Linked DNA regions of Homo sapiens: region 2 is linked to region 1. The links come from fine-mapping of genetic effects on gene expression. A gene starts in region 1. The other region holds a variant in brackets. All regions are shown on one strand. Distances are from middle to middle. Region 1 holds the start of ZNF467 (zinc finger protein 467). Region 2 has its middle 20 kb from the start of ZNF467.

What was found. PIP is the estimated chance that this variant, and not a neighbour inherited with it, causes the effect.
Region 2: its variant is fine-mapped to the expression of ZNF467 in whole blood (INTERVAL, PIP above 0.99).

What each region holds. Positions count from the first base shown.
Region 1 is chr7:149,771,918-149,774,813 of GRCh38, forward strand. ZNF467 (zinc finger protein 467) reads right to left here and starts at 1,671. Exons shown (of 5, transcript NM_207336.3): 1 at 1,191-1,671. RefSeq lists silencers at 1-17, 28-177, 1,114-1,293.
Region 2 is chr7:149,751,697-149,754,592 of GRCh38, forward strand. No RefSeq gene overlaps it. Among named protein-coding and RNA genes, the nearest start is that of ZNF467, 20 kb to the right of the region's middle. The variant T/C (reference allele first, on the strand shown) is at 1,654.

The sequences.
Region 1 (2,896 bases):
CCACCGCCTCCCCTGACCCTACGCTCCGGGCCGCCTCGGCGGCAGCGCTCCCCTCCCCCTCTCAGACTCCAGGCTGCCTTTCCCTACCCTCCCGGTTCTCCCCCGCTCCATCTCCCTCCCCGGCTGCACACCCTCTCCCTTCCTTTCCCCCTCCTCTTTTCCTTCCTCGCCAACCCCCGCCCTCCTCCTCTCAGCTCTTTTCCCCAACCCAGTTCTCCTCTCCCCTCCCTCCTCTCCTCCCCCACCCCGGTTTCCCTTCCTTCTCCTTTCCTCGCCTCACCTCGGTTCCCTTCCCCTCCCCCTTTCCAGCCCTCCCCCACGTCTCCCCACCGCCCTCCCCCTCCCCCCTCCCTTCTGCAGCTCTCCTTCCCCTCCGAGGCCCCCGCCTCCCTTCCCCCTCTGTCTCCCCAGCAGGCTCCAGCTTCGCTTCCCTCCCCGTCCCCAGTCCCCAGAACCGCTCTTCCCCTCCCCCCTCCCAGGCTGCTTCCCAGCTCCCGGGTCCTCCGGCCCCCAAGCCTGGGGGTCTAGGGCTGACCCGCTCTCTCGGGACCTTCCCGCGGGCCCTGCCCTCCCCACTCCGTCTCCCCTCCGAACACCCCTCCGCGCCTCTCTTCTCCGCCGCGGCGCCCCCTCCCTATTTCTGCTCCCCTCGGACTTCTCACCCCTCCCAAGTTTTCCTCCCGACGGGACCCTCAGCTCCACCTCCCTGCCCCGCCGCCCTCCCAAGCAGCTCCGATCGCCGACTTCATTCCAGGTCCCGGCCCCCTCCCCAGCTCCGGGGCTCACCTGTCAGCGCCCTCCTCTCCCGCCCCTACCGAGTGGCCCGGTCCCCAGCGCCCGCTTCTTCCTCCCCTTCCCCCTCGGCCCCCTCCCACACTCCCTCTCTCCTCCCCTCGGGGCCCGTCGTCCCCCTTCCCACCTGCCTCCCGCCCGACCCCCTCCCAGCCCCCGCCCTTCCCTCCAGCCCCCCCGGTCTCCTCTACCCCCACAGCCCTCACCCTGCCCGCGCCGGCCTTGCCCTCCCTTCCCCCCAGCCCCCGACCTCCCCGGACCCGCGCCCCTCCCCCACGCCCGCCGTCCGCGCCCCTACCCCCGGGGCTGTCACCTGCGCGGAGCCGGCCGTGACCCAACCGCGGCGCTGAGGGAGACGCGGGCGGGGCCGCCTGCAGAGGAGCCTCCCCGGCCCTTACCTGGCTGGCCGGCCGCTCCGCCCGCGCCGCGGGGACCCAGGCGCCCGGGCCTCCTGCCCCGCCGGCTCTGCTCACAATGGCGCTCGCCGCCTGCAGCTCGGGTGCTGACGGCCTGAAAGACTGACAGACTGACAGCCCCGAAACTTCGCGGGGAGGAGAGGGATAGACGCGCGGGGAGTCGAAGCCGGGAAACGGCGCCTGCAAGGGAGGAGGGACCGAGGGAGCGGGCGGAGAGCCCCGGCGCACCGGGCTGGGGGAGGCAGGGGCAGGGGGTTTCAGGAGTGGGGTCCCAGGAGGGAGCACCGTGGGCTTAGGTGGGCAGGTGATGGTCCTAAGGCTCCGAGCCTGGAGTAGGTGTGGAAGTGGGAGCTCAGGACGGGGGAGGGGAGGGGAGGGGAGGGGAGGGTGATGGGAGAGGGGGTGGAGGAGGGCGAGGAGGCTGGGGAGGACAGGCACTCGGGCTGCGGGGAAGGGTGCCAAGGGAGGGTGCTCGCGGCCGCGGAGGGAGGAGCCGGGGAAAGGTGGAGCGCGAACGGGTGGGGGGGTGGCGGGGAGGAGTTGGGGGAACGAGGAGGGGCCGTGTCGGGGGGGAGCCAGCGAGTCGTGCGCTGCCGTCTCTAAGTCGCCGGTGCCAGCCGGGTGTGCAGCGCCGCGCTCCCGCGGGAGGACGGCCCGGGGGGTCGGTCTGGGAAACTCCGGCCCCGCCCCCATTCTCCACCCGGATTCCACCCCGATCCACCCAGACCCGCAGCCCCTCGCCTGGAGTCCCGAGGACCCGATTCGAAACCAGCCGCGGGAGCCGTGGGGGCAGGCGGGAGAGAGGGCTGGGCCCCTGTGCTTGCGAGAACGGGTCCTTCGAAGTAGAAACTGGGGAGAGGACTTTAAGCCAGGTCCCCTGGGAGAAGGCCGGGCCAGGTCGGGAGCTCCAGGGGGCAAGGCTGGGACGGGGCTGGGCGGAGATTCTGAGGGCGGGGTCCGGGGGAGGGTCTGGGAGGGGGCTGCAGAGAGGGGAGGGCTCTATGGGCGGGAGACGATTGCTGGGGGGCCTGCTGGCCCGGACACCACCTGGAGTTAGATGTGGAGGGCAGCCCTCAGCCCTCAGCCCTCAGCCCCAGCTCCTCAGGGGACTCCACTCGCCCTCCCTGCCCAGGTTACGAGGTTTCTCCTTGGCCTTGTTCCCGCTGCGCCCACTCCTGAAAGCTCCGGAGATGCTGAAGTCTGGACTGTTAGTTCCCGGTCTCCTCTCCATGAACTTTCTCCAAACCCCTGGGTTCCAGCTTCCTCCCTTCTGCCCCTTTACGGGAAAGGGTGACTGCAACTCGGGTCTCTTCCCAATCCCAGTGCTGCCTGATCAGCCCCGGTTTGAATCCAGAGCTGAGTGAGGCTGGGAAGGGGAGGGTGTGAATGGCCCTTGAGCTCCTGCTACCACAGCCCACCACAAGGATGAGTGCCTGGAAGAGCGCCCATCACTCGGGCTCAGCTGTGAAGGCTCCTCTGCCTCCAGGATGAAGGGAGCACCTGGAGTAGCATGTGTCACTGTGCGTGCTGGGGTGTGGCCGAGCACCTGTGCCGGTGTTGTGAGACTTACAGTGAGAGTGTGCATGTGTGTAAAACAGGAAAGGGGGGTGTCTGGGTGTGCGTGTGGCTCTTTCTGAGGACTCCAGAGCAGGAGTTGATCCCAGTCATCCGTGACCCCCTGAGAGACT
Region 2 (2,896 bases), 20 kb before region 1:
TCAGGCCCCAGCAGAACCTCTCTCCTCCAGGCCTCCGTTCTGTCATGCAGGATGAGAGCAGAGGTTCTTAAACCAGCTCTGCGGACCATGTGGGCCCACAGAGGGGCTTAAAGAGGGTGTCCACATACCCTCTAAAATTACGTGCAAATCATTGTTTCTATGCACATTACTCTGAAGGGAGCTTTAAACAACTAAATGCTTGGTGGTTTGCTAAAGGTTAGGAACCGACAGCCTAGAAAATTCTCAGGCCTCTCCAACACTGACATTCCTGCTTTCCCCTTTCTGTCTGCTTTCCTGAGTGTGGTTCTCAGCTCTCTTCTTAGTTCAGGTAGCTCTCTTCTCATCTAATACATATACTTTGCAGTAACGGCCAACGAAGGTGGTATATTACAGTGAGGCTTTAAATGGGACATGCAGAGTATGTGAAACATACCAGATATCTAACTCACATAATTGCATTTGAGCAGTAAGTTTAGCTTTAACCATCTCAGCAGCCACATGAAAAAATAGATCGCTGAATTTATTAACTTTGGGATTTGTGTTTGCTGTCACCCTGTCTTAGTTCACAGCTATAACTCTGCAGGGGTGGATTTTAGGCACTCAGATTATCCGGTAGGGGAGGGATTTTGAGATGGGTAGGCCTTGTAAAGGCTCCTCTTCCACCTGTACAATTCAACATACGTGTTGTGAGTGTTCAAATGTGCCAGGTCCTGGAAATACCAAGACAAAAAAACACGACTTCCGCCCTCGAGATGTTCCCAGTGGGCCTGGAGAGATGAGGCTCCTACAAGGGTGTAACCTTTCTAAACCCCGGTTTCCTTACCTGAGAAGTGAGGACAGCAACCCCGTACCAAAGGGGGCTTAGGGGAATTAAGTAGGAGCCTCAGTCACAGGAGGCACTCACACATTTTAGGCACACGCGGACACACCCAACAACTGCAGGCGACATCTGGTAAGGTGGGAAGCAGAGGAACCATGACAGCTTAAAGGAGGAGATTGTTGTGTGCTGGGATCATTGGGGAAGGACACCCCCAGGAGGTGGCCCCCATCTGTGCTCGAAAAATAGGTAGGATTTAAAAGGGAAGTCAGGGCAGTAGGCACTTTGTGATGGGGAAGCCCAGGGAGGCCGGGGCAGGAGGCAGGAAGGACCACACGGCCCGGAGACAGGAACAAGACCGCTTGGTGTAAGGGAGGGTGTGTACCCAGGAGGTTTGGAAAATAAGTTTCAAAAGTTTGTTGGGGCCAACTGTAGAGAGCCTTGAGTTAGAACAGACATGTATTGCACACTGGCTAGGTGGGCACTCTGCTCTGTGCCAGGGAAGCTTGCCACCCCCAGAGGGACACACAGAATAATGTGGCACAATGTGTCAACCGCTAAGGCCTCTGGATATTCAGATGAGCAGAAGTTTCTAAGCTGGGGCGTAATAAGTTATAAGGAAGATCAGCCTGACAGTTGGAGGATAGATGGGGAAGCAGGAGTTGGGGAGAAGTCAGAGGGGGACCTGATAGGAGAAGGTTGCCCACTGGCCTGGGCTTGGGGGGACAGTACTGGGAGGGTCAGGGGCAGCAGGGGCAGCAGGGCAGGCATCTGCAAAGGATGAGCGTGCTATGACGCGAGCTCCATCATTCTGGAGAAAGAGGATCCTGAGGCCT[T/C]AGGAGTTCTCCTGGAAGCCCCACAGTGAAATCTCAAGAGAGAAAATCCCAGCGAGGACAGGGACACTGGGCCCACGGGAATCCTGTCTTGCTGGGCCGGAGGGGAGCCCTGGGTCTGGCTCCTGTAGAGCCTGAAATAGAATCCGATTTGCGATGCCCCTAATGATGTTATGTAATGACATTGCATAAGCCCGTTACGTAAATCAAAGTCCTGCTATTGACCAAGAATGTCCCCTGCCCCAAGGCTGACCTAATCCCACGCCTGAAGGCTCAGTCCTTTGTGGCAGTTGGATAAATCTGTTTCCTAAAGCCTCTGTGAAACCCTCCCGACCTTAAAGTCTCTGTCTTTAGGGTTCCTGGGGCCTCCTTCTCCGTTGCTGCTTCTCCACTGTGGGAGGCCTCAGTGTGACACTCACTCATCCTTCCCCAGGTGAGGGTTCCCAGGGAAGGACAGGATTCCAGTCCTTCCACCAGCGTGGAATTGTGGCCGTGCGCCCTCTTCTGGGGGTCTTGCATACTCCCTCTGACTGTGAAATACAAGACTTGTCTCTGGTTAAAAGACATTTCAAGGATCAGTAAGTGAGTGAAGAAGTTTTCTTCCCTGTGGGGCATGGGTGGCCTCCCCAGGACCCTGGAGTTAACAACTACGAGCAGGTTCTTGAGTCCCAGGAGCAGAAAGAATCTTTCACTACTGGAAACCAGCATGTCCCGTGAACGCACTCACCAACCTGTCTGCCTTCAGTCGGCCCATCTGTCTCCCTGAACATACTAGCAGAAGCCCTCCCACCCTCAACCCACCTCGCCAACCCCCACCCCGGCTCCCCTTCAAGCCCTCTCCCCAGCATAGGCAACATCTTCCTCGGGAGGCTGTCTCCTTCCTTCATCTATGTCTCTCTACAAGTAAATCCTGGTGTGCACACCACCACCCCCGACACATAAACACAGTTTACAGAAACACCAAACAAAACAGTCATGTTTGATGGAAAAAGGCTGAGTTCCCAGTTGCTCTTAGTGTCTCCTAAAAGTCAACTGTTTACTGTCCTATCAAAGCTATTTTACTGTTATAGGACTAGGAAAAATTTAAATTTAAAAATCACACGAAGAATAAAGTAACACAAAGCAAAACTGTTTATGTTTTATCTTTTTTTTTTTTTTTTTCAGACAAGTTCTTGCTCTGTCACCCGGGCTGGAGTGCAGTGATACAATCTTGGTTTACTGTAACCTCAAACTCCTGGGCTCAAGG